4 linked regions of the Homo sapiens genome follow. The protein of the gene in region 1 interacts with the protein of each later gene in a pairwise test. Each region holds a gene or a part of one and is shown in the gene's direction. Other genes may lie near its edges. The genes, in order: CYB5R3, VMP1, TMEM79 and STOM.

The links.
Region 2: the proteins of CYB5R3 (region 1) and VMP1 interact in binary tests that used the Homo sapiens proteins (3 or more experiments, as listed by UniProt).
Region 3: the proteins of CYB5R3 (region 1) and TMEM79 interact in binary tests that used the Homo sapiens proteins (3 or more experiments, as listed by UniProt).
Region 4: the proteins of CYB5R3 (region 1) and STOM interact in binary tests that used the Homo sapiens proteins (3 or more experiments, as listed by UniProt).

What each region holds. Positions count from the first base shown.
Region 1 is NC_000022.11:42,639,385-42,646,411, reverse strand, and holds part of CYB5R3 (NADH-cytochrome b5 reductase 3), read left to right. Parts: intron 1-1,785; exon of another isoform or gene 1,786-1,902; coding exon of another isoform or gene 1,903-2,022; intron 2,023-5,810; exon of another isoform or gene 5,811-6,137; coding exon of another isoform or gene 6,138-6,440; exon of another isoform or gene 6,441-6,609; intron 6,610-7,027. Other genes in the region: ATP5MGL (ATP synthase subunit g 2, mitochondrial), read left to right, coding at 6,138-6,440. UniProt on the Homo sapiens protein: Catalyzes the reduction of two molecules of cytochrome b5 using NADH as the electron donor.
Region 2 is NC_000017.11:59,702,928-59,710,667, forward strand, and holds the start of VMP1 (vacuole membrane protein 1), read left to right. Parts: upstream 1-4,726; 5' UTR 4,727-4,821; exon of another isoform or gene 4,822-5,150; intron 5,151-7,740. UniProt on the Homo sapiens protein: Phospholipid scramblase involved in lipid homeostasis and membrane dynamics processes. Has phospholipid scramblase activity toward cholesterol and phosphatidylserine, as well as phosphatidylethanolamine and phosphatidylcholine.
Region 3 is NC_000001.11:156,280,174-156,287,324, forward strand, and holds the start of TMEM79 (transmembrane protein 79), read left to right. Parts: upstream 1-4,151; 5' UTR 4,152-4,233; intron 4,234-5,010; 5' UTR 5,011-5,053; coding exon 5,054-5,810; intron 5,811-6,086; coding exon 6,087-6,300; intron 6,301-6,459; exon of another isoform or gene 6,460-6,614; intron 6,615-7,151. Other genes in the region: nonsense-mediated mRNA decay factor SMG5, read right to left, coding at 2,434-2,507.
Region 4 is NC_000009.12:121,367,230-121,375,215, reverse strand, and holds the start of STOM (stomatin), read left to right. Parts: upstream 1-4,965; 5' UTR 4,966-5,028; coding exon 5,029-5,089; intron 5,090-5,249; exon of another isoform or gene 5,250-5,323; intron 5,324-7,986. UniProt on the Homo sapiens protein: Regulates ion channel activity and transmembrane ion transport. Regulates ASIC2 and ASIC3 channel activity.

The sequences.
Region 1 (7,027 bases):
TGAGCTGGGGGCTCCCTGGGACTCTGGCACCCTGTGTCCCTCTTCCCCTCTGTGTTATTAGAGGCAAGGAGAGGCGGGTGATGGGTTCCCTGGTGGGGCAGAGCATGGCTTGTGGGCATTAGGTCAGGGGCTGGGAGGCAGCTGTCTCCTGGGCCCCCAGGTGGCTGGGGTGAGGTGGTCTGTGTGTGTGAGTGTGTGTGTGAGTGTGCACGCAGCACAGGTGAGGAGGCACAGGGGTGGGACCTTGGCCTCAGCCACCTGCCTTCTGTTTACTTGGCCCACTGCTGGTGAGGGTTGGGGTGGTGCTGTGGACGAGGACGGGGCAGAGCCTGTTCCAACCCGTGTGGGTAGGAAGAGAGTGCACCCCACCGTGTGAGTCTGGCAGGGCCTCTGGCTTTCTGGAGGTGAAACCTTCGCCCCTCCACTGCTCCTGGCTGTGGTGCGCCCTCTCTGCCGGTGTCTGTCTCCCCGTCTGGCTTGAACTCGGGCGGGGCCTCCTGGCCTGTGTCCCCTGCGTTGCACATGGGACCTGCCACCTCAGTGCCCACTGGGGTTTGTGGACTAAACGACTGACCGACGGTGATGGTCTGCCTGTGGCTGCCTCCCCAGATAAGAACTTTTACCTATAAAAAGCCCACCCCTTCTCTTTAGTGGCCAGAAAGTGTCCCCGGGCTCAAGTCTGTCCCCTGAGGCTTGGTTTCCTCACCTGAAGTGGGAGGAGTCATGAACAGGCTTGAGGACTGAATGAGGTGGCGTGAGCAGAGGCTGCCCGCCTGGCTCCGGGCAGCCCCTGTTGTTGGGAGCAGACACTGGAAGGAAGGTCCTTGACTCTCATCTGCTGCCCACGGCGAGCCTGGCCTTCTGAGCAGTGCTTGACTCCCAGCTCAGCCACGGGAGCTGCGTATGTCCTCTCTGAGTGTGGAACAGGCGTGGAAACAGCCTGGAGCCGGATCCTAAGCCCACCTCTGAGGCCTGTGCTCTTGGAGGACAAGCGGGCTTTTCTGACAAACAGGACAGGCTGTGCCGCGCCCTCATCCAGGAGTCTGGGCTCTTGTCCTGGTTCTGGAAACTTCTAGGCAAAATAAAAACACTGGGAGGGTGGGAGCCTGTTGTCCCTTCACTAATTCATTCCACAAATATTTGTTGAGTGCTTTCTGTGTGGAGTGTTGGGGATACAGTGGTGACGACAGACACAGATCCTGCGGTCTGCTCCAGGGCCACTTCTGGAGACTTGTGGGGAGCCGGCAGCCTGGGGTTGGAGGCCAGCATTCGGGGACTTGCCATCGGAGCCACTAATACGCGGGTGTCTTTTTCTTGGCCCAGCGCCCACCCAGGCTCACTTCCATGGGTTTAGGTTTAGGGCAAGGGAGGGAAGTGGGAAAGCAACAGAAAATCAGAAACCAGGCTCCACCCTGGGCCTCCTTGAGCTACATTTGTCCCCTCATTGTCACACGGGGAGCCTGGTTGTTCCCACCTTGCACCACTGTGGGAGGGCCGGGGAGGAAATGGGGGAAGGTGCCTCGCAGCCCGTGAAGCCAGCTGCCCGCGGAGGGGCCTTAAGCTGGGCTGTGCACTGACGCAGCTGTGCTGGAAAAACAGAACTCCAGGGAGCACCAAGCACAACCCCAGCTCCTAATGTCATTCAAGTTCATTGCCAGGGCCCCCAACAATGGTGATTTCCTGTGAATGTAACTTCGGCCAACTTTTTCCCTAGACTCTATTCCACGTGGGCGTGGTTTCTGTGACTGAGGGAGAGGTCGATAGCAGAGGAATCCTCGGAATAGTACTTGCCCCAGGGAGTTTCCAGAAGGGACCAGGGGCTGTGAAAAGTCTACCAAGGGCCTGGTTAGCTAGGGAAGGGCTCATCAGGGAAGATTTGATGTTTGAGCTAGGCTCTGAGGAATGAATAGGAGTTTGCTGGTTGGATGCATGCAGAGCAAGGACATTTGGGGCAGAGAGGAGAGCATATGCGAACGCCTGAAGCAAGATGGGCTTGATGTTGAAAGAGCAGAGAGCTGGGAGGTGAGTCCAGAGTTGGGGCCATAGAGAGGGTGCCTTCAGGTAGGCAGTGGGGAGCTATGGTGGGTATTTGAGGAGGGGTGGAGCCGCCTGTTGGTTCGGACCCCCGGGGCTGGGGGCAGGTGCTCAGGCCTCACTGTGGGAGGCAGGATGTCAGATTTGGGCTGTGAGCTCTTTGACTGGAGCAGAAAGAGTGCCCCTGTCCTGGGAGGTGGCTCAGGAAGAGCAGCACTTTGGGCTGGACATTGAGAGTCCACTCCCGGCCCACCCTGAATGGCTATATGACCTTGGCAGGTCACTTCATCTATCTGAGGGATAGATAACAGTGTCATGTGGTGAGCGATGCTTGGAGGGCTGGCTTTGGTGTACTCCGGGCAGGTCACTCCCCTTTCCTGGCCTCAGTTTCCTCACGTGCTGGGATGATCACAGTGCCCGCAGCCTAGGGTTGAGGTGGGGAGTATTCCAGGAAACCCGCGGCCCCTACTCAGAACAGTGCCAGCTCAGGGGCGCTGACCGCTGTGTGCCTCCTTCCTCCCCACCCTCCCCATCCTCCAGGTAGGGCCCGGGGAAGTGAAGCGACTCTCCTGCCATCCTTAGCTGGGACTCAAACCCTGGTCTCTCTGACCCAAGTCCACAGCTGCCAACTGGGGCCTTAAAGGAGGCCTGGGATGAGTGAAACACCTGGGCCATGCTGATTAAATGGGTGGTGGCCAGAGACCCCAGCTGGGTGGCCCTGGGCATGGGTGAGGGGTGGGCTAGGCATCCACAGCCCTTCCTTTAGACCCATGGGTCAAATACCAAGGGCCCCATGGAGCGAGGCCTCAGCTGCACCCAGCATGGAGGCCCTGCCTGGGAGAGAGGCCTTTTGTTTTAAGCCCAACAAAGGACCTGTAACTGTAGCTGGGCAGCTTGGAGCTGCTGGGCCGTTGCAGGGTGGGGGGTGGGGGGGCGGGGGCCAGGCCTGGTGTGAGGTTGTAGCACCCTGCCCTTCCTTCACTTGGCTATTCCACTCCTCTCAGTTGGTAGTGGCCCCGTGAGGGTGGCAGGAAAAGCTCCTGTGTGTGAGCCGGGACTTCCCAGGTTATAGACCCCTACGTGACCTGGGCCCCAGCTCATCTCATCTCACATCGCTTCAAGGAGATAGGCCAGGCAGTGGCCCTCGCTTTTTACAGACAGGACACGTGGCTCCACCAGAGCGTCCTCCTCAAATTGTTGGAGAGTAGGGACTCCTGGTAGTGTTTCCAGAAGGGGAGGGGCAATGGGGCTAGGCCTTGAGAGGTTAGGAGCATCTTACCTGGCTCTGAATAGAGCAGAGGCACTTGTCTGTGTTCTGCAGGATATACTACCTCAAGGGGCCCGTAGCAGGTCCCACAAAGCAAGTAGAGAGGCCTGCACGCATGCAAGGAACTTGTTTCTCAGCTTCCTGGCACTCAAAGTGAAAAGGGAACTTGTAGGGTAATGATAAGAGAACACACATGCACATTTGCTGGGAGAACTACAATCAGGGAGGTATATGGGGAGGGTGTATAAACAAGCTCTGAAACAGCTTTCTTGAGAGCCAGTGTTTTATATGAACTTTGGCTTCTCAGCCTCTCTAGTTGAACTACCAGTATGGGCTTCACACACTTTTTATTTTGAAATAATTTCAAATTACTGGCCGGGCGAGGTGGCTCACGCCTGTAATCCCAGCACTTTGGGAGGCTGAGGCGGGCGGATCACGAGGTCAGGAGATCGAGACCATCCTGGCTAACGCAGTGAAACCCCGTCTCTACTAAAAATACCAAAAATTAACTGGGCTTGGTGGCGAACGCCTGTAGTCCCAGCTACTCGGGAGGCTGAGGCAGGAGAATGGTGTGAACCCAGGAGGCAGAGCTTGCAGTGAGCTGAGATCGTGCCACTGCACTCCAGCCTGGGCAACAGAGCGAGACTCCATCTCAAAAAAAATAATAATTTCAAAGTTACTGTAAAAGAACATTTATGGGCTGGACGCAGGGGCTTATACCTGCAATCCTAGAACTTGGAAGGCTGAGGCTGGCTGTTGGCTTGAGCTCAGAAGTTTGAGATTAGCCTGGGCAACATGGTGAAACCGCATCTCTACAAAAAATACAAAAAAATTACCAAGGCCTGGTGGTACGTGCCTGTAGCCCCAGTTACTTCGGGGACTGGGCTGGGAGGATTGCTTGGGTACAAGAGGTCAAGGCTATAGTGAGCTGAGATCACGCCACTGCATTCCAGCCTGGGTGATAGAGTGAAACCCTGTCTCAAAAAAAAAAAAAGAGCTCTTATGTACTCTTCACCCAGATGTACCTAATGTTATTATTTGCTACATTTGCTTTATTTCTCTCTATACAGTATATATCTAATGTATGTTAAATATATTAGATACTACATGTGTGCATATCCATACAGTGGACCCTTGAATGGTATGGGGGTTAGGGGCTGACCTGTATAGTTGACAGTCCACGTATAGGCTGGGTGCAGTGGCTCATGCCTGTAATCCCAGTACTGTGGGAGGCTGAGGCGGGTGGATCACTTGAGGTCAGGAGTTCGATGAGACCAGCCTGGCCAATGAGAAAAAACCCCGGCTCTACTAAAAATACAAAAATTGGCCAGGCGCTGTGGCTCATGTCTGTAATCCCAGCACTTTGGGAGGCCAAGGCAGGCAGATCACCTGAGGTCAGAAGTTCGAGACCAGCCTGGCCAACATGATGAAAACTCGTCTCTACTAATGATACAAAAATTAACTGGGTGTGGTGGTGGGCGCCTGTAATCCCACCCACTTGGGATGCTGAGGCAGGAGAATCGATTGAACCCGGGAGGTGGAGGTTGCTGTGAGTTGAGATCTCACCACTGCACTCCAGCCTGGGTGACAGAGCCAGACTCCATCTCAAAAAAACAAAACAAAACAGAAAATAAAAATTAGCCAAGTGTGGTGGCGTGCGCCTGTAATCCCAGCTACTTGGGAGGTTGAGGCAGGAGAATCGCTGGAGCCCAGAAGGCGGAGGTTGGAGTGAGACAAGATCGCGCCACTGCATTCCAGCCTGGGCCAGATCTGTCTTAAATAAAAGAAAAAAAAAAGAAAATCCATGTATAACTTCTGGTTCCCCCAAAACTTTCCTACTAATATACTATTGACTAGAAGCCTTACCAATAACATATTTGTATATTGTATGTATTATATACTATATTTTTACAGTAAAGTAAGCTAGAGAAAACTGTTATTTTAAAAATCATAAGGGGCCGGGCGTGGTGGCTCACGCCTGTAACCCCAGCACTTTGGGAGGCCGAGGCAGGAGGATCACCAGGTCAGGACTTCAAGACCAGCCTGGCCAACATGGTGAAACCCTGTCTCTACTAAAAATACAAAAATGAGCCAGGAGTGGTGACGTGCGCCTGTGATCCCAGCTACTCGGGAGGCTGAGACAGAAGAATTGCTTCAACCTGGGAGTTGGAGGTTGCAGTGAGCTGAGACCGTGCCACTGCACTCCAGCCTGGGTGACAGCAAGACTCCGTCTCAAAAAATAAATAAAGAGAAAAAAAAATCATAAGGAAGAGAAAACATATTTACTATTCATTAAGAGGAAGTGGATCATCATAAAGGTCTTCATCCTTGTTCTCACGTTGAGAAGGCTGAGGAGGAGGCAGGGGGTAGTCTTGCTGTCTCGGGTGACAGAAGAGGAAGAAGATCCTTGTATAAGTGAACCACTCAGGGTCCTGGCCGGGCACAGTGGCTCACGCCTGTAATCCCAGCACTTTGGGAGGCCGAGGTGGGTGGATCATGAGGTCAGGAGTTCAAGACCAGCCTGGCCAACATGGCGAAACATTGTCTCTACTAAAAGTACAAAAATTAGCCAGACGTGGTGGTGCTCACCTGTAATCCCAGCTACTCGGGAGGCTGAGGCAGGAAAATCACTTGAACCCGGGAGGCGGAGGTCACAGTTAGCCAAGATCACACCACTGTACTCCAGCCTGGGTGATAGAGTGAGACTCCATCTCAAATAAATAAATAAATAAATAAATAAATAAATAAATAAATAAATAAGTGAACCACGCAGGGTCCTTCCGGGGGGTGACCTTCAGCTGGCCATTCGGGATGATGGACTTTCCATCCCAGAACCATGGCTCCATTTGTCCGTAACCTTGTGGAGAAGACCCCAGCACTGGTGAATGCTGCTGTGACTTACTTGAAGCCTCGATTGGCCGCATTTTGGTACTACACCACGGTTGAGCTGGTTCCTCCCACCCCTGCTGAGATCCCTAGAGCTATTCAGAGCCTGAAAAAAATAGTCAGTAGTGCTCAGACTGGTAGCTTCAAACAGCTCACAGTTAAGGAAGCTTTGCTGAACGGTTTGGTGGCCACTGAGGTGTCGACGTGGTTTTATGTCAGAGAGATCACAGGCAAGCGTGGCATCATTGGCTAGAATGTTTGAAGACCAGTCTTAACATCTGATTATATTTGATTTATTATTTGAGTGTTGTTGGACCAGGTGTGATCAGACTGCTATCTGAATAAAATAAGATTTGTCAGAAATTCCAAAAAAAAAAAAAAGTGAATCAAGCAGTTCCAACCCATGTTCAAGGGTCAACTGTGTCTATATTTTGAACCATTTAAGAGTAAGTTGCCCCTTTGCCCCTAAATATTTCAGTGTGTATCTCCTAAGAACAAGGACATTCCTTTGCGTAACCACAGAATAATTACAGGAAAGTAACATTGGTACAACACTATTATCTAATCCACAAGCCTTATTCAATTTTTTTTTTTTGAGATGGAGTCTTGGCTCTTGTCACCCAGGCTGGAGTCCAGTGGCATGATCTCGGCTCACTGCAACCTCTGCCTCCTGGGTTCAAGTGATTCTCATGCCTCAGCATCCTGAGTAGCTGGGATTGCAGACGCCCGCTACCATACCTGGCTAATTTTTGTATTTTTGGTAGAGACGCGGTTTTTCCATGTTGTCCAGGCTGGTCTCCAACTCCTGACCTCAGGTGATTCACCTGCCTCGGCCTCCCA
Region 2 (7,740 bases), on another chromosome or scaffold:
ATAAATTAAGTGTTCTGAGCACCTTTAAGGTAGGCTAGGCTAAACTACCATGTTTGGTAGGTTAGGTGTATTAAATTTATTTCCAACTTCTATTTCCTTTTCTAAGAGACAGGGTTTCACTCTTTTGTCCAGGCTGGAATACAGTGGAGTGATCATAGCTCACTGCAGCCTCGAACTCCTGAGCTCAAGCAATCCTCCCACTTCAACCTCCCCAGTAGCTGGGACTACAAGCACATACCACCACACACTGCTAATTTAAAAAAAAACTTTTTTTTTTAAGACACAGGGGTTTCATTATGTTGCCCAGGCTGGTCTCGAACTCTGGGCCTCATATGATCCCTCCCACCTCAGCCTCCCATGTAGCTACATTTACAGGCATGAGCCACTGTGCCTGGCTCTCAATTTATGGTACTTTCAATTTATGATGGGTTTATCAGGATATAACCCCACCCTAAGTTGAGAAGCATCTATATATAATTATGATCCCCATTTTTCGGATGTAGAAAAATGAGGTACACAAGTTATAGCTTGCCTAAATTCACCCAGCTCATAAGTGGTCGTCTTAATCCAGAGCCCTTGTTCTTTTTTCTTTTTGAGACAGAGTCTTGTTCTTGTCTCCCATGCTGGAGTGCAATGGCACAATCTCGGCTCACTGCAACCTCTGCCTCCTGGGTTCAAGTGATTCTCCTGCCTCAGCCTCCCAAATAGCTGGGATTACAGACACCCGCCACTACACCGAGCTAATTGTTTGTATTTTTAGTAGAGACGGGGTTTCACCAGGTTGGCCAGGCTGGTCTCAAACTCCTGATCTCAGGTGATCCAGCCACCTCGGCCTCCCAAAGTGCTGGGATTACGGGCGTGAGCCACCATGCCCTGCCGAGCCCTTGTTCTTTTTTTTGGAGACGGAGTCTCACTCTATTGCCAGGCTGGAGTGCAGTGGTGCAATCTTGGTTCACTGCAACCTCCACCTCTGGGGTTCAAGTGCTTCTCCTGCCTCAGCCTCCCAAGTAGGTGGGACTTCAGGCATGTGCTACCACACCCGGCTAATTTTTGTATTTTTAGTAGAGATGGGGTTTCACCATGTTGGCCAGGCTAGTCTCGAGCTCCTGACCTCAGGTGATCCACCCACCTCGACCTCCCAAAGTGCTGGGATTGCAGGCGTGAGCCACCATGCCCTGCCGAGCCCTTGTTCTTAACATTACTATATCAGGCCTCTCCCAGCAGTCTAGATGAGATGATGGTCATTTAGACAACAGTAGTGGGAATGAGAAATAAAAAAAGTGTCTAAGGTACACCTGTCTGATTTAGTGACTGACAGGAAGTCTGGTGGCAAAAGAAAGGGAGAAGTTAATAATGACAGCTAGATTTGAACAAATGGAGAATTTTGGTGAAATACCAGGTTTGAATGGAAAAGATAATGAATTAGTTTTGTTCTGAACAAAAGACATCTCAGAGATATCTAGAAAGAAGAAAAAAAAGGATATATCAGCTTAAAGGACAGAAAGGTCTAGGATATATCAGTTTAAAGTCAGAAAGGTCTGGGCTGGAAATATAGATTTGAGAGACCTTACCATATAATTGAAGTTACTGAAGAGATGGAAGAGTATGAGGCCACTTGGACAAATATGTAGAATGAAGAAAGGACTAAAACATAATCCTGAGGAAATGAACATTAGGAATCAAAGGAGACTGACATGGAGTGGCCAGGAGTAGGAGGGTCACATAGGGTAAGCTGTAGTGCACCTAGTTTCAGTGCTCTTCCACTCAAGTGCCTAAATACGGTGACAGGGCTGCACAGACATAGTATTTATGGTTCTAGTGCCTTTACAGCCCCCACCCCCTAAAAGAGACAAAGACAGAGAATTCTTTTTTTTTTCTTAAGACGGCATCTCACTTTGTCACCCAGGCTGGAGTGCAGTGGCGCCATCTCAGCTCACTGCAACCTCTGCCTCCGGGTTCAAGCAATTCTCCCGCCTCAGCCTCCCACGTACATGGGATTACAGGCACCCGCCACCACACCTGGCTAATTTTTGTATTTTTAGTAGAGACGGGGTTTCACCATGTTGGCCAGGCTGGTCTCGAACTCCTGACCTCAAGTGATCTGCCTGCCTCAGCCTCCCAAAGTGCTGGGATACAGGCATGGGCCACCATGCCTGGCCAAGTTTCTATTTGATGCTTACATATCAGCAGGACTTTTCTTTGATAATCTAACAACCAGACTCCAAACTGAACAAATATGCAATGTCAGCAATTAGGATTCTCTGAAATAATTTCTAGGCTGCAAAGTAACCAAATATCCCATACACTACATTCCGGTACTATCTGGAGAAGGAACTGCTCTACATAGAGAAGCTATTATGTGCTGGATAACATACTAAATCCTTTATATCCATTACCTCATTTATTGTTGCTATGAACACATAAAAAGGAAGATATATTAGCCTCATTTTAAAGATGAGAAATATGAGGATCAAACAGAGAAGTTGCCTTTTTCTTTATTTTTTTTTAAAGAGAAGGGGTCTCCCTCTGTCACCCAGGCTAGAGTTCAGTGGCATGATCATAGCTCGCTACAGCCTCAAACTCCTGGGCTTAAGCAATTCTCCTACCTCAGCCTTCCAAGTAGATGGGACTACAGGTGCATGCCACCACACCCTCCTGATTTTTTAAAAATTTTTTATTTTTGTATGGACTTGGTCTTGCTATGTTGCCCAGGCTGGTCTGGAACTCCTGGCCTCAAGGAGTTGCTTGAGGTCGAGGCAGCAGCATCTCGAGTCCAGTTCAAAACCAATCTGGGCAACCCAGTGAGACCTCATCTTTACAAAAAATTTAAATAATTAGCCAGATGTGGTGCCACATGCCCATACTCCCAGCTACTCAGGGGATAAGGTAGGAGGACACCTCAGGCTGGGAGGTGGAAATTGCAGTGAGCCATGATCGTGCCACTGCACCCCAGGCTGGACAACAATGCAAAACCCTGTCTCCAAAAAAAAAAAAAAACCCAATAAGATCAAAAACAGGACAGTGAAAGTTCCAAAAGTTACCAAGTTTATTTATTATGTCCCATATCTCAATGGAGTGTCTAATCATAAAAATGCTAAAATTAACACATATTTTTGTTCTTTAGGATGTTCTAATCTCATATTAATCTGATCAGATTATCATCTAACTCCTCTAAAACAACATGTCTGTCTCTTTTTCTGTACACTTACGACAAGCGTATCAATAAGCCTAGTGCCTAAGACTAAGGTAAAACAAATAACCATTCTTTGTCTCATAAATAATTCTGGGCAATGACAGCAGAACAAAATAAGTACATCCTATAAAATCTTCTTCTTGGTGCCTTCTAATTCCCCTGCCTCAGTAAACCCATTTCAGTAGTGCTCTTGATCCCATTACCTCCTTCTGCACCATGCTCCACCCGTTAATCTTTTTTTAAGAGACAGGGTCTCACTATGTGGCCCCCTATGTGGCCCAGGCTGTTCTCAAACTCCTGGGCTCAAGCAATCCTCCTGTCTCAGCCTCCCAAAGTGTTGGATTACAGGCTGAGCCACCGCGCCGGGTCTGCAGTTTACAACCGAAAAAAACAAACAAACCTTTCCCAAATCTTCTCTGACCCTTAAGCCACTGCCCCACTTTCCCTGTATAACATATTCCCAGAGTCTAGTATGGTGCCTGGGGTATGTCAGTAAGGATTAATACCTCTCTAGTTAATCTCTTTGTGTGAAAAAGGGGGGAAATTTTTTCTTTCTTTTTTTTTTTTTTCTGAGACGAAGTCTCACTCTGTCGCCCAGGCTGGAGAGCAATGGAGCGATATCGGCTCACTGCAACCTCCGCCTCCCGAGTTCAAGTCATTCTCCTGCCTCAGCCTCCCGAGTAGCTGGGATTACAGGCACGCGCCACCACGCCGGCTAATTTTTGTATTTTTAGTATAGATGGGTTTTCGCCATGTTGGCCAGGATGGTCTCGAACTTCTGACCTCAGGTGATCCGCCCACATCAGCCTCCCAAAGTGCTGGGATTACAGGCGTCAGCCACCGCGCCCGGCCCCAAATTTTCGACTATATTCTTAGAAACCAATTCTTTCCACGCAGAGCTCGACAGCTCGAAACGCTGGGGATATTCATAAGTGCCCAGCTGAGGGTATGAGGCCTGCTCGCTATTTTATCAATTTCGGAGAGAGCGCATCGATACTGCCTGCCTGGAGGCTTTGCTGGGAACTAGAAATTCTGAGTCTTCCCCTCCCCAGCAGCCTGTTCCTTTCCTCCAAAGGACGGTTCGCAGAACAGGAACAGAGGGCTCAGCGGCCCCTGGGCGGAAGACAGTTTATAAAGGAGAAAATGAAGAAGGTGGGTAATGCAACGAGGTGAAAAGAAACGTTCCTACTGGCGAGAAAATGAATAATGATATTGGTCTCCTTCGCCCTGTAAGGAGCCAACCAACCTACCTACAGTACCTCCTTTCCTCACTCGCGCCTTCCCTTCTTCTGGGCAGCGAACACGTTTCTATCGCGTGAGCTACCTCTTCCGGGGTTCCTGGGTGACAAGTTCCGGATCAAGAATCACAAAGCGAGCAGTCATTCTTCCTCTTGCCACACCCACAGGGCCCGCACTAAGAGCCTAACTGAAATCCCGCGAGGATCAACCGAGCTCGCCGAAAGGAGGGAGGAACGTATCCCTTCTGGAGGCTGTCTCAGGGGGCAGAGGGACCGGACCGGAAGTGACGTGAGCGGGTTCCGGTTGTCTGGAGCCCAGCGGCGGGTGTGAGAGTCCGTAAGGAGCAGCTTCCAGGATCCTGAGATCCGGAGCAGCCGGGGTCGGAGCGGGTAGGTAAACTAACTCAGGGAATTGGGGACCGAAGCCTGAGGCTGTCCTCAGAGCTTGGCGTCTTCCGGAGCTCTCCCACTTAGGCATTGCGGATCTGGGGCACTGTGATTCCGACTTCCAGCAGTGTTTTAGGACGCTGCTGACTGGATGTCTCACCCTGGATGTCTCACGCTGGCGGTAGCCAGGTTATTTGGGACACCTTCTCATGGTTGGTCACCCGGACATTGAACCCAGACACCGGGCTGTTCGTTCTCCTCTCCGCGTACTTGGAAGCCTTGCTAGGCTTCTTTAGAGAACCTCTTAGTCCCGGGATGTCCAGGACCTTGGAGTAAGTGGAGAAGGTCTTCCCTGCTGATGACTGAGCTATTTCTCAGGATCTGTCAGTTTGGTTTTTGCTCTCCCGAACCTCTGGCGCATGATGCTAGATGTATTCGCTCCTAAACGAAATCCAGGCGTGCAAGTGCCATCTAAAGCTCTGGTGGTACAGGGTAGCCAAGGGAATGGGCCTTCGCTCCGCAGAGCCCTTGGAGAGGAACTTCTCAGATTTTTCACTGCTTTAATGAAAAAGAGTTGTCTGCCTTTCCAAACCCCTGAACCCCGACCTCTATATCTTATTACAGTGGAGGTATTTGCAGTAAAACGTGAAGGTCGACTTAATCTCTAAAATTCCAGAAACCATATGTGGCCCTGTGTCACACTGCTAGATTACTTATGACCTCCAGAAGATTTTACACAATCATCTTTTATTTACCTGCAACTCCATGTAAAAATCTAATAATACACGTAGACTGGCCACTGTTGATGTGTTTTGGCAGCATCGCTCCTTATCCTAATGTTAACGTCTTTCATTTCTACTTTGGGGCTTGTCAGAGATTTTTGTGGACAGATTACATTGATCATTTGAAGAAGCTTGTACAAGTGTTTCTGGTGTTGTCATGATAGAATTTAATATTCCAGTTGCTACTACCTAGTAATTGTATTGTCATTAGCTCTGATTTTAGTTGTGTATTCTTAGCATAGATGATGAAAGGAAGAAACTTACTTACTAGGCATCATTGTATGCATTGTAGCTTATGTTTTTACTGTGGAAGAGGGATGGTGGTACCTAGACAAATGTGACTGATTTGTGTAGGTATGAAGTGACTCTCTCGAGTAGAAATTTTATATTTTACTACTTTGCCTACATTATCTTAAGGCACTGAAGGTTACTTTTTTCCTTTGAGGGATATATCCTACTTGATTACAATTGATTAATACAGTTTAATTTCTATGAGTCACATTCCAGAAGAAAATATACATAGAACCATGATGCCTTTTACCAGTTTACCTATAGCTAGTTAAATCAGTTTGTCAGTTTACATATTTTTCTTATTTTGAGTTTGAAAATTTGTTCACGCTTGGCTTTGAAACAAGGTGACAAAATTTGAGATATGGAATTATGATAGATGTATCATTAGTTTAACATTCGGTAAATTTGCTTCTTGATTATATAACTGCCAAATCTGATCTTATCTTCTTTATGTTCAATTGAAGGACTGATTATCCAGTTTTTCTCACTTTTCCAACTTCTCGCTTTTGGCTTGAATCACCACTTTTTAGGATTTTGGTAACTATTAAACTTTAAATCAGAAGACCTGGATTGAAGTCTGGGCTCCAACACTTGTTAAGTAATGGCTGATAGGTTACCTAACATTCTGAGCTGGTCTAGATTGTGTTGATAAAAATTCTGCTCACTTTCTTTCATACAACTGTCACAAAGATTAAATGAGCTAGTAAACATGAAATTATTAAATATGAAAATATGGTATCACTTTACTCTTAGAACTGGAGATATGTCAGTGTAGAATACTGTTACTTTGCATCATTATCTGAAAATATTATCACATACTTTTCTGAGATGATCTTTGCCCCACCTTTGAAAGTTAGCAAAGAATAGTTTGATACCGTGATCCATTGAATTAGTCACCATGGTTAATAAATAGGTTCCTGGAAAATGAGTATAGTTTTGCATTCGGGAGTTTAAATCTGATCCTTTTTGGTCGTCATGTATTGTCACTTCAGAACTTCCAAGTGCAGAAAAAGCTGAAGTTTTTTGCCTACGTATAGTTAACTAAAGAGTAGAAGTAGTCCTATCTTACTTACATTAAATAAGAAACCTTATTATTGGGCCGGGCGCGGTGGTTCACGCTTGTAATCCCAGCACTTTGGGAGGCCGAGTTGGGCGGATCACGAGGTCAGGCGATCGAGACAATCCTGGCTAATACAGTGAAACCCTGTCTCTACTAAAAATACAAAAAATTAGCCGGGCGTGGTGGCAGGCGCCTGTAATCCCAGCTACTCCGGAGGCTGAGGCAGGAGAATGGCGCGAACCCAGGAGGCGGAGCTTGCAGTGAGCCGAGATTGCGCCACTGCACTCCAGCCTGGGAGACAGAGCCAGACTCCGTCTCAAAAAAAAAAGAAACATTATTATTTCACTGAAACCAATATTTAGAATTAGAAGGAATCTCTGTGAATGTATAAGTAGATTCCCATTTAACAGAGGAGAAAATTAAGGCTCAGAAACAATCAGTAATTAGTAATTGGCTTGCTTGAGGTCATCTGGCTTAGGTAGTGCTAGAACCTGAACTGTAAGGTCTCAAGTGTTCTTTCTGTTCTAACAAGGTTGTATCCAGGCATCTTATTATGGTTTGGTAATATTTCCAAGTTCACATGAAAATAATTACTCTTAGGTATTAAAGGGATCTATCCACATACACACGTAAATACACACATACGCACATAAGCCTTATTTACAAACTTTTTTTCCCTCTTTAGCTAGTTTAGTCTTATAAATTGTAGCATAACAAAAACTGTGCTTGGCTAGATTTGAAGTGTAATAGATTAAGGAAAGAAAATCAGTTATATTCTTCAGAATAGTT
Region 3 (7,151 bases), on another chromosome or scaffold:
CCAAGAAGTCCCAGAGGTAGGTCTCATATCTGGAAGGGTAAAACCCAGAGGACATCAGGCAGGAGCTATAAGAACATGTGAATCAGGCACAACTGTGGACACAAAAGCAACAAAAACAGAGTGAAGATTCCCAAACAAACCAAGACGTGCTCCCGGGCCAGGAAAAGTGGGCCACAACAGTTGGCACCCTGTGGTGGTGGTGGCTCAGGAGGCACACTACTAAGCTGCCCTACACAGGGTGAAGTGACTGCCAGCACCCAGCAGAGTAGGTGGGATGGTAATCGATACCTTCTCACAAGCAATCATGTTTCTTCAAACTGGACAGCCTAGAGATGGATGCCAAGCCCTTTTGGCCAACCTGGCCCTCGATGCCAGGGGCAGCACCAGTGATTTACTTTATACCAGCTCAGTCCCTAGGGCAGGGCTTTTATCTTTGGTGCCATGGAAAGAGCTAATGGGAGTGTATATTTTTATAGACAAGCTCCACAGCTCTCCTTATATCCTTAATCCAAAAGAAGGTAAATAACCACCACTCTAGGAAGTTCTAATTGAAAACGCTTAAATATGAGAGGGCTCACCACTTTTTTCTCATTTTCCATCAGATCATAAGCTCCTCCACTAAACTATAATCTCTCTTAGAACAAAAACTACAAAATCTAGCCGTGTGTTTCATTCACTATTGTACTCTCGGGCCTAGCAAAAACAAAAATGTTTTTAAAAACAAATAACTAATGAATTGGCCTAATTAATTAATTGGTGCTTCCAGGCTCCTTTCTCCTGCTGCCCTTTCTTCTGACTTAAAATATTTCAGAATTTCATATCCGTAAACAGCTAGGTGTGAGAGTTCCCCAAATTTCTGAAGCTCAGAGTGACAAGTCCATAGTCTAACAACACATTTATCTTGAGCAGAGAAATCAGACTTTCCTCCTAGTTCCTTCCACTGATCACCACTGCTATAATAAATTATAAAAACAGTGATTGGCTGCCTCAAATTTCTACCCTGCTCAAAGCCAACAACACAATTACAGGCAGATACCCATGTGCACACAGGTAAGCCACACAGGCAAACACATCAGCTTAGGTTAGTCCTGTGAATGTAGTGGTTTAAGAAAGAACTACATTTGATGACAACTGGAAGGATGACCAGAGCCATCCCCAAAAGCTGGAGACAAGGAATATTGCAGACACTGCCCACGCTCTGTCTGACAGGCAGCACTGACACTCGGCAGCATGATAAGGCACACGTGCCACCCCCAGCCAACTCCTCACCCGCCTGGGGACTGCTTGGGGCAGCCCATAGTGGGAGCCCTGGGGCCGCTAGATTGAATCACTTTTCTATTTTTGGAGCAGCCTATACTCCCCTCTGCCTCTGGCTTACAAAGCCAGAGAAGGCAGGATGCCTACTCAAAGAGAAAAAGACAACATGCTCTTGACTCTTTCACCGCCAAAATGTGGCCAAGGCTCTGAGGGTCGTCTTCTCATGCAAATATCCGTGTTCTATAAAGCCTGAGCTAAATGAAAACCCCAAACTCTACTCTGTAGTAGAAGGCACAAAACTCAGTTTCCACGCTTCATCCTATTTTGACCCAGTTGCGGAGCCCATGTTCCAGTTGACCTACCCAACAAATTCTCCACCTTTGATGGGAAGAGCTCATTCGGGCCTGTTGCCAACAGAGGGCTGAAGGGCTGAAGATGTGACTTGTGGAGCGTGGGTGGCATTATGGAAATCAGAAACCAGGAACGGAAGTTGCCTGGCAAGAGACTACAGTCATGAGGCTGGGAGGAAGGCAGGACTCAGGAGTCCCCAGGTGCCCGGAATTGCCTCCCAAATCCCAAGAACGCTCTGGACACAAAAGTCGTTCGTGACCCTTCCAGGCCAAGACTTTCTCATTCGGACTCCTCAAAATTAGAGCCGTATGGGACTTTAGAGCACATCCAATTCAAATCGTTCTTTTTAAGGATAAGGAAACTGAGGCCCAAGGTCACACCGTGAGAGAGTGGCAAAGGATGGACCTGAACCTAGCTCCACGGACTTCAGTCCAAGACTCTTCCTTGTAAATCCCCCAGGATTCCAAGCACCGTTCCCTTCCGGGTTTTTCTACACCTGTGACCCCACCTTCACCTACCCAACCCTTCCAGCCTTCAATTCCCACCCTATTACCCCAACTCCACCAAGCTTAGTGCCCGCCCCAAGAAAGCTCACTGCAGAGGGGATTCCTCCACGTGCTTCCCTCCAAACCTCCCACCTACCCAATTCCTCCTTTCAGTTCCATCCCGAGTTACTACGGGACCCCGCCCCGCCTCCAAAATTGCACCCTCCTTCCTCACCCGCACCTCACCCCGACACCCGGGCCCCGCCCGCCCGGGAGGCCCCGCCCCTCGCCGTCTCCCCACTTCCCTCGGTGGCTGCTCTCACGCCCTGGCCCCTCTCACCGGTAAAGCCGCTTAGTGTGGAGGACTTTTGCTTCGGGCTCGCTGCTCTCCCCTGTGGGGGGGCCTTGGCTCATGGTGCCCGGGTCCGGGGGCAGCTCCCGGTCACAGGCCCCTGCCACCCACCACTACCGCCAACACTGCCGTCTCCGGCCGTAGCCGCAGCCGCCGCCGCCACCGGCCCTGCTCGGCCGCCATCGCTGTGAGGCGGCTGCCCGCGACAGCTCCTCCTCCGCCTGCCAAATCTCGCGATGGCAGCCGCACAGTTGCGGACCAGTGGCCTGCTGCTACCAAATCTCGCGAAACTCGTTTTCCCTCCCGGGAAGTTGCCAGAACTAACTCTGGGCAGCATGGCGTCTTTCCGGCTTCTCCAAACCCTTGCGAAAAACTTTATTGGCAAAGCTATCAGAGAACGGACAGTGTACCCACTGAGGCGGCCAAAGCTTAACTGGATCAGGGCAGGTGAGCTTACAGCTAGGAGCGTGACTGCTTTGTCCTACAATGGTCATTTGGTCCATCCTTCTGCCCCTTTCCCGCCTCCCCGTTTGAGCCAAGCCTCTTTCAGATTACTGGTTAGAGTGACTCCAGCTTTCCCTTTTCCCCCATAATTTAAACAAACAAAAAGTGCATGTGAAAGTTTCCTTGGAAAGGGCCGAGCATCACATAGGAGTAAAGCCCCGGAAGAAATGACTTGTACAAGCGTCTCGGCCCTTCAGCTCCCCTCCCAAAGATTTCCAGCTTGCATATCTATCTCTTACGAGCCAGTAACATTTATTGAACTGCCATCTTCCAGCCACAGTGCAAGATTCTAGACACACAGAGGTGAGCAAGCTAGACACTATCCCTGCCCTCCCAAAGCTCAAATGATTTTAGGGATAAGGACTCATAGAAATGAGAAGCTAGTCCCTAACGTTTCTATCTCCTAATCCTCACATTGGAAATCAGGGCAGGTGGGCTTACAGCTAGGAGCGTGACTGCTTTGTCTTGTTTTAGCTTAAAACCTAAGTTAAAAAGCAAGGGTGGTTTGTTTTGTTGTTGTTGTTTTTGCCTGTGTATGAATTGTAATGAGAACATAAATTGCCCTTCTACCACTATGCTCCTGGCTGCAGCCACCCACCTTCTTTCTGTTCCTGAAACAGCCTAAGTCTTTCCCATCCATTGGTCTTTCACTTGCTGTTCCTCTGTCTGTAACACTCATACTCCTGATTTCCCATCAGGTTTCAGCTCAAATATTACCTTACCAAAGAGGTCTTTCCTATTAAAATTGTCTAATTGATTTAGTTGCTAGGCTTCTTCATTATGTTACCCCAATAGAACATAAGCTTCTCAAGGGCAGAGACCTCAACTGTCATCTTGTTCTCTTCTGTGTCTGCCTAGCTAATAATTGGTGTCCAGTAAGTATTTACTGAATGAATAAGTGTACAAATTCCATTTCTGGGTATCCCAGCCTACTCCGAGCACCCTTTGTTGCACAAATCCACTTTTCTCCCTCTGCTTTCCTGAGCTGGGAGTTCTTACGCATTCCAGGTGCCTAGAATGTGAACTTACCCCTTTGCCCAGCTGCATCCCAACTTTCAGAAAGGATGACATCCTCCTCTGATGCTTTTTTTTGTCGGCAGATTCAGCAGGGCGGGGCCTGCCCCTTTAAGCTGGGCCCCACCTGCTCTGGTCAGACAGGTTTTGAGACACAGGTAAAGGGAGGGAGACAGAGAGAAATACTTGCAGAGCCAGCAGGTAGCTGGGCAGCTCCTTCCCGGACGGACGGATGGACAGACGCTGGGGACCCTCCACTCCATATGGAAAGTAAGAGGATGTCATGGGTCCAAACTGCAAGGTTTGGAGTGCCCTTGAGATAAAGGAAGGGAATCAGTCCCATCCAGAAGCAATGAGATGGAGGGCAGCAGGGAGGAGAGAAAGACAGGAGAGAAGGCATAGAAAACAGCCATGATCAGACCTAAATATCAGAATAGCAGACCCAGGCCCTGCAGAGATGGATGAGGTGGGCTAGTGAGGAGTTTGGGAACTGACCAAGTACCAGTGAAGGAAGAGGGTGCCTGGAACTGCCAGCTCTTTGGGTCAGATCAGTTGGCAAATCACTGGTCTCACTTGGAATGCAGGAGGGTTCCAAGCAGGGATGTGTAGGGATGGGACAGTGGAGAGGAAGCTTCTCTGTCTACAGCAAGATCCTCAGTGGGAAAGAAACTTGGCAAAGTTCTAGACACCTCTTCTGCCTCCTATTCCTGCATTAGAGTGGCCATGACTCCAGGGGTTTTGGTGGAGGGGCATAGAAGGCGTGGGTGGAGGCTGACTGAGTTCACAGCTGCCAGGGCCTGTGTCCCTTGACTCACCCTCTCCTGTTGGACGGCATTTGATGTCGAAAGGGTGCCTCCATTTCAGCTGCTCACTTCCTTCCCTCCTCCCTCTGTTTCAGTGTCTTCCTCTGTACCACGTTCTCCCTAAGGCTCCAGAAGGGGCCAAAACCCATGAAGCCAGTTGCCCTGGAGAGTATGAGTTCTGTCAACCTGTCCTAATAACTAGAAGACAGGGGTTTCTGACAGAGCTTTCCTCTGTTCCCTGCAGGATGACATGACCTTGTGGTAGATCCCAGAACTGAGGCCCCAGGATGACAGAACAGGAGACCCTGGCCCTACTGGAAGTGAAGAGGTCTGATTCCCCAGAGAAGAGCTCACCCCAGGCCTTGGTTCCCAATGGCCGGCAGCCAGAAGGGGAAGGTGGGGCCGAATCCCCGGGAGCTGAGTCCCTCAGAGTGGGGTCTTCAGCTGGATCTCCCACAGCCATAGAGGGGGCTGAGGATGGTCTAGACAGCACAGTAAGTGAGGCTGCCACCTTGCCCTGGGGGACTGGCCCTCAGCCCAGTGCTCCGTTCCCGGATCCCCCTGGCTGGCGGGACATTGAACCAGAGCCCCCTGAGTCAGAACCACTTACCAAGCTAGAGGAGCTGCCCGAAGACGATGCCAACCTGCTGCCTGAGAAAGCGGCCCGTGCCTTCGTGCCTATTGACCTACAGTGCATTGAGCGGCAGCCCCAAGAAGACCTTATCGTGCGCTGTGAGGCAGGCGAGGGCGAGTGCCGAACCTTCATGCCCCCCCGGGTCACCCACCCCGACCCCACTGAGCGCAAGTGGGCTGAGGCAGTGGTGAGGCCGCCTGGCTGTTCCTGTGGGGGCTGCGGGAGCTGTGGAGACCGTGAGTGGCTAAGGGCTGTGGCCTCCGTGGGAGCCGCACTCATTCTCTTCCCTTGCCTACTATACGGGGCATATGCCTTCCTGCCGTTTGATGTCCCACGGCTGCCCACCATGAGTTCCCGCCTGATCTACACACTGCGCTGCGGGGTCTTTGCCACCTTCCCCATTGTGCTGGGTGAGCCTGTGAGAAGAAAGGGGGCATCGGGAAGTGGACTTGAGGAGGGCAGGGCCTGGCTGGTGTGGGGAGCAGGAGGATTTCCCTTCACTTGACCTGGGCCCCTCAGGGTCTCCCACCCCCTGCCAGTCTGCATGCCCATCTCCTCCCAGGACCACCTCCACCCCACTGTGTAGAGCCCATGCACTGCCCACAGTGAATCTGCCCCCAGCTTACTGCCTCTTGTGCCCTTCCCCTGCCTTTTCTGACCCTACCCTGTTTCCCAACTCCACCCAGGGATCCTGGTGTACGGGCTGAGCCTGTTATGCTTTTCTGCCCTTCGGCCCTTTGGGGAGCCACGGCGGGAGGTGGAGATCCACCGGCGATATGTGGCCCAGTCGGTCCAGCTCTTTATTCTCTACTTCTTCAACCTGGCCGTGCTTTCCACTTACCTGCCCCAGGATACCCTCAAACTGCTCCCTCTGCTCACTGGTCTCTTTGCCGTCTCCCGGTAAGTTGGGGCAGAGGGTGGGGCATGGGAGAGGGGATGGTGCTAGAGAACCTAGGCATCTGAATGTCTGGAGAGCCAGGGTCAGGAGCTTTCCGGATTCTACACTGGCCCAAATGTGTGCCCTGGGGAGATAAGTCCACCTTCTCTCTTGCACCTTACCTCAGCTGGTCAGCAGATGGAAGCCGATTTCAGAGACATATATAACCATATGGAACAAGAAGGCTTTCAGGTGTCATCTAGATCAATGCACCCATTGCAGCCACTCCTGTGGCAATCTGGTCAGGTAGCTGTTTTGGTCTCTGGTTGAACACCCCCTGTAACCAAATGTACAACTTAAAAATAGATATATTTTTTCAAAATAGAGACAAGGCTGGGTGCAGTGGCTCATGCCTGTAATCTCAGCACTTTGAGAGGCCGAGGTGGCAGATCACTTGAGGTCAGGAGTTCGAGACCAGCCTGGCCAATATGGTGAAACCCTGTCTCTACTAAAAATACAAAAATTAGCTGGGCATGGTGGTGCACACCTGTAGTCCCAGCTACTGAGGAGGCTGAGGCAGGAGAATCGCTTGAGTCCAGGAGGTGGAGATTGCAGTGACACAAGATCGTGTCACTGTACTCTAGCCTGGACGACAGAGCTAGACTTCATCTCAAAAAAATAAATAGCCGGGTGTAGTGGCTCACGCCTGTAATCCCAGCACTTTGGGAGGCTGAGGTGGGTGGATCACAATGTCAGGAGCTCGAGACCAGCTTGGCCAACAAGGTGAAACCCCAGGTCTACTAAAAATACAAAAAATTAGCCGGGTGTGGTGGTGGGCATCTGTAATCCCAGCTATTCAGGAGGCGGAGGCAGG
Region 4 (7,986 bases), on another chromosome or scaffold:
GCTAAGAAGACAAAAACCTTGTTGTAATGCAATAAGTGTGAATTAATACATATTAAAAAAAAACAGATCAAATTTGTTAGTCCCATCCTAGAGAAAATGTCACAGACAGATGTAATTTGATGGTATTGCTGTTCTCTCAAGGTATTTAGTTAGCTGACTTCCATAAAAGCATCGAAAACATCCTGGATTAGCAATTTAAAGGAAAAAAAAAAGACTTTTCTATTGTTCTTATTAAAGCACTGCTATGGACACAGGAAAAAGGCTAATTAAATTTCCTTCTGTCTTATTCAATTACGGATTCATGGTGCATATCTGTCTTTAACCTGATCTCCAAGTCTTAATGTTATCACTATTACCATCAATCAATACTTAATTTGGTACCTTGAATATGCTAGGCAAATAACAGCAAAATAAAACATAAAGGAAATACGGAACGGCCAGGCGTGGTGGCTCACGCCAGTAATCCCAGCACTTTGGGAGGCCAAGGCAGGTGGATCACGAGGTTAGGAGATCGAGACCATCCTGGCTAACACAGTGAAACCCCGTCTCTACTAAAAATACAAAAAATTAGCCAGGCGTGGTGGCAGGTGCCTGTAGTCCCAGCTACTCGGGAGGCTGAGGCCGAAGAATTGCTTGAACCCAGGAGGCAGAGGTTGCAGTGAGTCGAGATCATGCCATTGCACTCCAGCCTGGGTGACAGAGCAACATTCCATCTAAAAAATAAAAAATAAAAATAAAAAATAAAGGAAATATGGAACATCTACTCTGATTTTCAAACTATATATAAGTATCCTTCAAATAACAACTAGAGGAAAAATTCACCAAAATTGTAATAGCAGTTTTGTTAGAGGTGATAAGAAATTCTCTCTTCAAAGTACTCACAATTTTATATGTCTCCATTTAAAAAGCATAATGTTATTTATTTATTTATTTTATTTTATTTTTTGAGATGGAATCTCACTCTGTTGCCTAAGCTGGAGTGCAGTGGCATGATCTCCGCTCACTGCAACCTCCGCCTCCCGGGTTCAAGCAATTCTCCTGCCTCAGCCTCCCAAGTAGCTGGGATTACAAGCATGCGCCACCATGCCCGGCTAATTTTTTGTATTTTCAGTAGAGGCGGGGTTTTACCATGTTGCCCAGGCTGGTCTCAAACTCCTGACCTCAAGTGATCTGCCTACCTCAGCCTCCCAAAGTTCTGGGATACAGGCATGAGCCACTGCGCCTGGCCATAAGGTTCTTTAAAAAAAATCATTCTAACTTCTAATCATTACTGGGAGAAAATTTAAGATTAAAAATCCTCCAAAAGGAGAAAGGGATGTACTAATATTTGTTTTTTTCTAATCTTAAGAGTGAGAAATTGATTTTTAAAGTACATTTAATCAATACATTTATAACAGAATATGCACGAGAAAGCCAGAATACACCAATTTCATGGGCAAGTGAGAGTAAGCATATTTAAATAAAAAATTGGAAACTCTATTCTAAAAGCAGTTTAAAAATCAAGTCAAAGCTTGTTCTTAGTTTAGGGCCAGGAATTAGTTTTAGAACTGATGCAATCTGAAACCAGAGCCAAGAAGTGTTTACCAAAGTCTTTACCCCAAAGGGAGACACTTCTAATTCTCCAGAAGGGACACTACACTGTTAAGATTGTCTTGAGACTTGGGCTTAGGTAACTGATAGGGGTACACATATTAAATTCATTTTGAAATACCATTTTCCTTTCCAACAAAAATGAAACCTAAATCCTTTTTCACAATATGCAATTTGTAATCAAGGCCTCCTCTACCGAAGGGTTTAATTAGTTTCTTGTGTATTTGCTCCTCTTTCCTGGGAATGACAGGATAAACGGGAAGTTTATGTCTCCAGGGCTTATTCGTTACAGAATGGAAAAATGAAGCTATGGACTTTCTCAAGGATGATTTAGAGAGAAGGGATCATTAAATTACTGTACTCCCCTCCTTATCTTCTCCAGAAGGCTAACAAAGTGACTGCACAAGCTGCACTCCATCCCAGGAATACAAACAGTTCTTGGCCAGTATTTGACTAAAAGTCAACTGCAAGCTCTGAGTCAGGTTTTGATCACACACTGGAGCCTGTTCCTGCAAGCAAAGATCATCTTAATGCCTCTCTTAACACCTGTTGTGTCTGCTCCCGTTTCCGTCCTGATAGTCACAAAGCTCCAGAGCTGTAAAATCAGAGAGAAAGTCTACCATTTCATATGACCTAAGCACCACAAGGTGTTGGGTAGTACACAGCCAAATATTGAGCACATTAAGAAAGAAGTGCTCCTCCTGAGGGAGATCTTTGTGGTAATGGAATAGTTCTGTATCAATTACTGTGGTTATATCAATCTACACATGTTAAAATGGCACAGAACTATAAATACATTTTGTGCCACTGTCAATTTCCTGGTTTTGATACTCTAGTTAAGTAAGACGTAACTATTGGGGGAAACTGGGTAAAGGGGACATGTGACCTCTCTGTACTGTTGTTGCAAATTCCTGTGAATCTGTACTTATTTCAAAATCGAATGTTTTTATAAGTGCACCTTGTGTACATTAACATACTTTGAACATTGTGCAATAGAACAAGTCTAATGCAAACACAGCCTACTTTCCAAATATGAGGTCTTCAGCCACACCCCAAGAGAAGGCCTGAGGTTGGGAATGCCCTTGCACATGCTTTTCCCTCTACCTGGGATACCCTTTCCCACCTCCTGCACCGCTTATTCCCCTTCCCCAGGCTGGCTCCTTCTCATTTCTCAGGCGACATCTCAAAGCCCCTTCCTTACAGAGGTGTTCCCCTGTCCTAACCTTTGCTGTTCTCCGAATATTCCACTCCTTTCACAGCTTCCTTCACCATGTGTAATGATTCAATTACTTGTTTGTGGCCCATCTCCCAACTAGAGTATAAGGTAAACTCCACGAGGCCCTTAGCACACTCCCTGCCACATGGAAGATGCTCCAAGAAGATTTTGTTTGAATAAATGACCCCACCGACTGAATGGACTCCCTTGTGGCCAAGGGGACTCCAGAAAACTTTAAAACTGAGTTCCCAGCCAATGACAGGACAGAAGGTCAGACTCGCCTCATTATAACTTCATCGTATTGGAGTTTAGACACAACAGCTGACCAGCATTAACGTTAAAACACAGATCATAAGACTGACAGAACAGACTGTTTGTGACAATAAGATACCAAATTATAAACAAATTATACCTAAGGTCATGCCAGGCAAAGGTTAAGGCACACATCCCTTCACTTAGAGAATAAACTGTGTTCTAACTGCCACAAGGTTGTTCTCTTTCTCTAGCAGCTTAACAAGCACTGGCCTCGAGATAAGCAATATTAAAACAATTTGCAGCTCCACCAGATGTGGCCTAATGGAACCCCTATTCCACCAGCCATCATTACAGCTTTAATTGGACAAGAGGCTGATTTCAGTAACTTTCTCCTCATAGGAAAACTACCGACCATGGACTGGCTCTGGCTAGTTTACACAGACTGCATACTTGCACACCTTCCTGTCCTGAAAAGACCTTTTGACGCATGGGGTCTAACTGTAATACATGTATTGTTATTATTTTTTAGAGTCCATCAGGCTGGAGTGCAGTGATCTGATCATACATCACTGCAGCCTCCAACTCTTGGGCTCAAGTGATCCTCCTGCCCCAGCCTCCTGACTAGTTGGGACCGCAAGCACACACCACCCCACCTGGCTATTTTTTTTTTACTTTTTGTAGAGATGGGGACGTCACCATGCAGGCCAGGCATTTAACATTTAATTGGTAACTCTTCACTCCAAAATGAACATGGGTTGTATGTTACATGCATGTTTGCTCAATGGGCATGCGTCAGGACCACCCTCATGAATATTCATAGCTCCTCCTGTCACCTGCTGAATATGCATGTCTACCCAAGCTGTTCAGCATAAAGCCGCTACTCCAACCCCTCCTCCAACGAAATGCCTGTCTCTGGTCCTGGCCATTCTCCAGCCTGCGGAATGGCCACCTTGCAGGCTGTAACCCCTTACAAGAAATAAAGTCTCCTCTCCTGTTTTTTTGTTTTTTGTTTTGTTTTTTTGAGACGGAGTCTCGCTCTGTCACCCAGGCCATCTCGGCTCACTGCAACCTCTGCCTCCCAAGTTCAAGCGATTCTCCTGCCTCAGCCTCCCAAGTAGCTGGGATTACAGGCGCGCGCCACACGCCCGGCTAATTTTTGTATTTTTAGCAGAGACGGGGTTTCACCATGTTGGCCAAGCTGGTCTCGAACTTCTAACCTCAGATGATCTACCCGCCTCGGCCTTCCAACGTGCTGGGATTACAGGCGTGAGCCACCGCGCCCGGCCTCCTCTCCTTTTCCAAATTTATACATTTTGATTTTCTTAACACACCTCACTCGAGTTCGTTCACTTCGGCTGCGGCGTGATCTGCCGGCCCTCTCAGCTCAGGCTGACCTCAGCGCCCTCACTTCGGCCACTTCTGTGTCCCTCAGTCTTCTCCCCTCAACTCGGACCTCGCGCCCTCATGACAGGGCGCCATTTTCTTCCCTCTAACTCCTCAGCCCAGAGGAGGCGCCTTGGTCCCGTACCTCTGCCCGGCAAGGCGACTTTTCTTCACTTGCACTTTTGCCTCGGGTCATCCTCTGCTGCTACCTCCCCACTATCCTCACCATCTGCTCCACGTCCCGTGGCTTCCGCCCTCCCTTCCGGTGCAGGGCCCCGGCCTCATACCCACAGCCTTGGGGGCTCTCGCCCCTCAGGCCACGCCCCTCAGGCCACGCCCCTCAGCCCACAGAACTAGCGGGAAGTGACTGCGAAGCAGTCGCGCCGTGGAGGGACAGGAGGGCGGGGATTGGGAGGTGGGTCCTCCTCGATCCTGGGCGTTGATTGGCCAACTCTCACGAGGGCGGGACCTCGATTGGGGGCGGGGCGGCAATCTGGGTCTTGTGCCTCTGGCTCCTCAGGGCATTCCCGGCGGCTCCGGGTTTGGCAACGAGGACGGGGGAGTGCGACTGCGTCTCGGGCAGCATGGCCGAGAAGCGGCACACACGGGACTCCGAAGCCCAGCGGCTCCCCGACTCCTTCAAGGGTGAGTCCCGCGTCCCCTGACCCTCCCCCGTGGACCGAGCCCCCGCCCGCAGCGTGCGCTCCGAGGTCTGACAGCCGGGCTCCTGGCCAGTCTCCGCTGCTTCGGGCTGGGCGAGATCTCAAAGCCGCGGCTCCTCCCTAGTAAACTGAGCATCACGAACCCTGTTTGGCAGACTGAGGTCACGATGGAGGGGTGGCGGGCTGCCAACGGCACGTTTCCCATCGCACGGGCCCTGGTTATCTCGCGGCCGCCAGATGCCAAGCCCCATGCCAGGGCTGCACTATCTCGTGTCACGCACGCGGACTAGGAAACGCAGAGGGAACTGGCAGCCAGCGAGGCGGGGACCGGGACCCCACATCTCACCCTTTGCCCACTCCCCTTCTTTCCCGACTCACTCTCTCGAAGGCCGCCTCCTCCACCCAGCCCTGGCCTGGCCCCAGGGTGAACCCCCTCCTCCCCCAATCCCACCTCCCGAAACTTAGACCGATTTGCAGAAGGAAGAAGTCTCTCTGGCTTTCTTCTTACCTCTCTTTCTAGCTCCACTTTCTGCCCCATTTTTCCCCCTCCGCTTTCCTCTGCGTTTTGGAGAACTCTCCTTCCCGGCTTTTGTTCCTCGCCAGGAACCCTGAGTTCTCCCACCCTCACCCCCACCCTCCCTTCCCAGTCTTCAAGGCAGGAGCTGTAAGTGGCTCAGTCTCGTTCCCCTGTGGAGGAACTGGTACTCTGGGGAGGGGGTTCCAATAAAGAGAGATGGTGGACCTCTCAGGAGTCCTGGTACCCACTCAGGAGCTCTTAGTGATCCAGAGGAATTACAGTGTTTCTAAAGATGGAATTTCAGGCAGGATGGCAGTGAAAGCAATTTAGAGGGCTGGGTGGTCCTTTCCAGGACCCCTCAAAGAACATGACATTGGAGTCATCTATTCTGATTATTTGTAAAGCCAGCTTTATCCACAGCATCTTAGCTATAAGTTCCATTTCCCTTGTCCAGGGATCCCTGTGTTCAGTTCCTTCCCAGGAGCATCAAAGGAATTACAGAAATCTTTATTCCTCACTTTTTGTCTACTAATAACGTTGCAGGTTATCTTCCCAAATGGAGAGTGTAACAGGGAGGAGTTGATGAGAATAATGGCAACCACAACAACAAAAATTGAAACTAAATAGGTCAGGCTCCGTATCACTTTTTTTTTTTTTTTTGAGACGGAGTTTCGCTTTTCTTGCCCAGGCTGGAGTGTGATCTCCGCTCACTGCAACCTCCGCCTCCCGAGTTCAAGTGATTCTCCTGCCTCATCCTCCCAAGTAGCTGGGATTACAGGCGTGCACCACCATGCCCAGCTGATTTTGTATTTTTTGTAGATACAGGGTTTCACCATGTTGGTCAGGCTGGTCTCAAACTCCTGACCTCAAGTGATCCACACGCCTCGGCCTCCCAAAGTGCTGGGATTACAGGCATGAGCCACCGCGACCCCCCCAGTGCCACGTATTTTATGTATATATTATTTTATTGAATCTTCACAACAGATGATGTGGTAGGTATTCTTATCCCCATATTATACTTGATGAAACTGATAGTCAAAGAAGTTAAATTACTTAAAGTCACTTAGTTTGTATTTAAATCTAGATTTGACTGATTCTAAAACTTGAATAGGGAAAAAATGGGTGGTAACTGCCTCTTCGATAGTTAGTTGTCTTTTCCTAGATAAAAAGGTGGGTATTAGCATGCATTCCTCAATACCCTGACCTCCTGGTGGGAAACTGCAGTGGCAAATCTGCTTGGAGTTCTTTGAGAATCAACATGATCTTTGTACTTAATGTTTATTTACAGACAAGTGGTCATAGATGAGTTTTTAACTTCCAGTTTTTTTCCTTGGTTCTACACTTAACTACTGTTTAGACAGAAATCTTTCAAGATCTAATGAAAACCACCACTTCCTCTCAAAAATTAGACATACAAATAAAATTTTGCATAGTCTGTGTTTTTTTAATGTAAACCTAACAAATTTGACGCTACTAGGAAAGGTATTGCTGGAATTTATTAAATAGAGGTTATTGAATGCTTTCCCTGTGCCAAAAGACAGTTTAAGTGCTTTACAAACATTATCTAATTGCATTCTGTAACAGCTCTACAAGGAAAAAGTCATTATTCACCATTTCACAATAAGGATACTGCGGCTCACATGGCAAAATCACAGTTTCTAAAATTTTCAGCCCTGTTTCAAACCCCGGCTATCTGATTTTCTGAATCATTTTCCCTATCCCAGAGATGGATACCAAAATGTAGAACCTTGTCTAACTTCAGTACTTTACTTAAGTTGAGAGACAATAAACAAAAAAAGCCTGGAGGAACACAGCTTCAGTGATGACTTCCAGAAGGCTGCTTGTGAAAGAAGCAGTGGAATTTTAAAAGCCTAAACTCTGCCTCTTTGTCTTTACTGAGAATTAGTCCTAGGTAGGTAAATAGCACCAGGCCTAGGGCAAGACTAGTTTTTCTTAAAGGCGATGCATTCACTTTGTAATGAAATAATGCAAGTAATTGCAAAGAATGTATCACTGTAATTAAGAGCCATGTCAACAAATAAAACCCTTTGGGAGACTGATTGTTTATTTCAGTTGTTATAGCCAATCAGATTGGAGAGAACTTTGTAACTTCTTCAATAATTAATCTGAGTTATTCCATCAGTGGTCATAAATTAACTTATGGAAGACCAAGTCTACAAAACTGGCATATTTATTCATGATTAAATAGATTTTTGGTGCCATTTGATGGTATAAATTTTACCTAGTAAAAGACAGTCACTGATTCCTAGTCATCTTTGAGGGAAAAAAAAGATGTTGATAAAGTGATACAGATGGAATTCAAAATCAGTTTTTTTAAGAAGGCATGGAAAAGCAATTTCCTG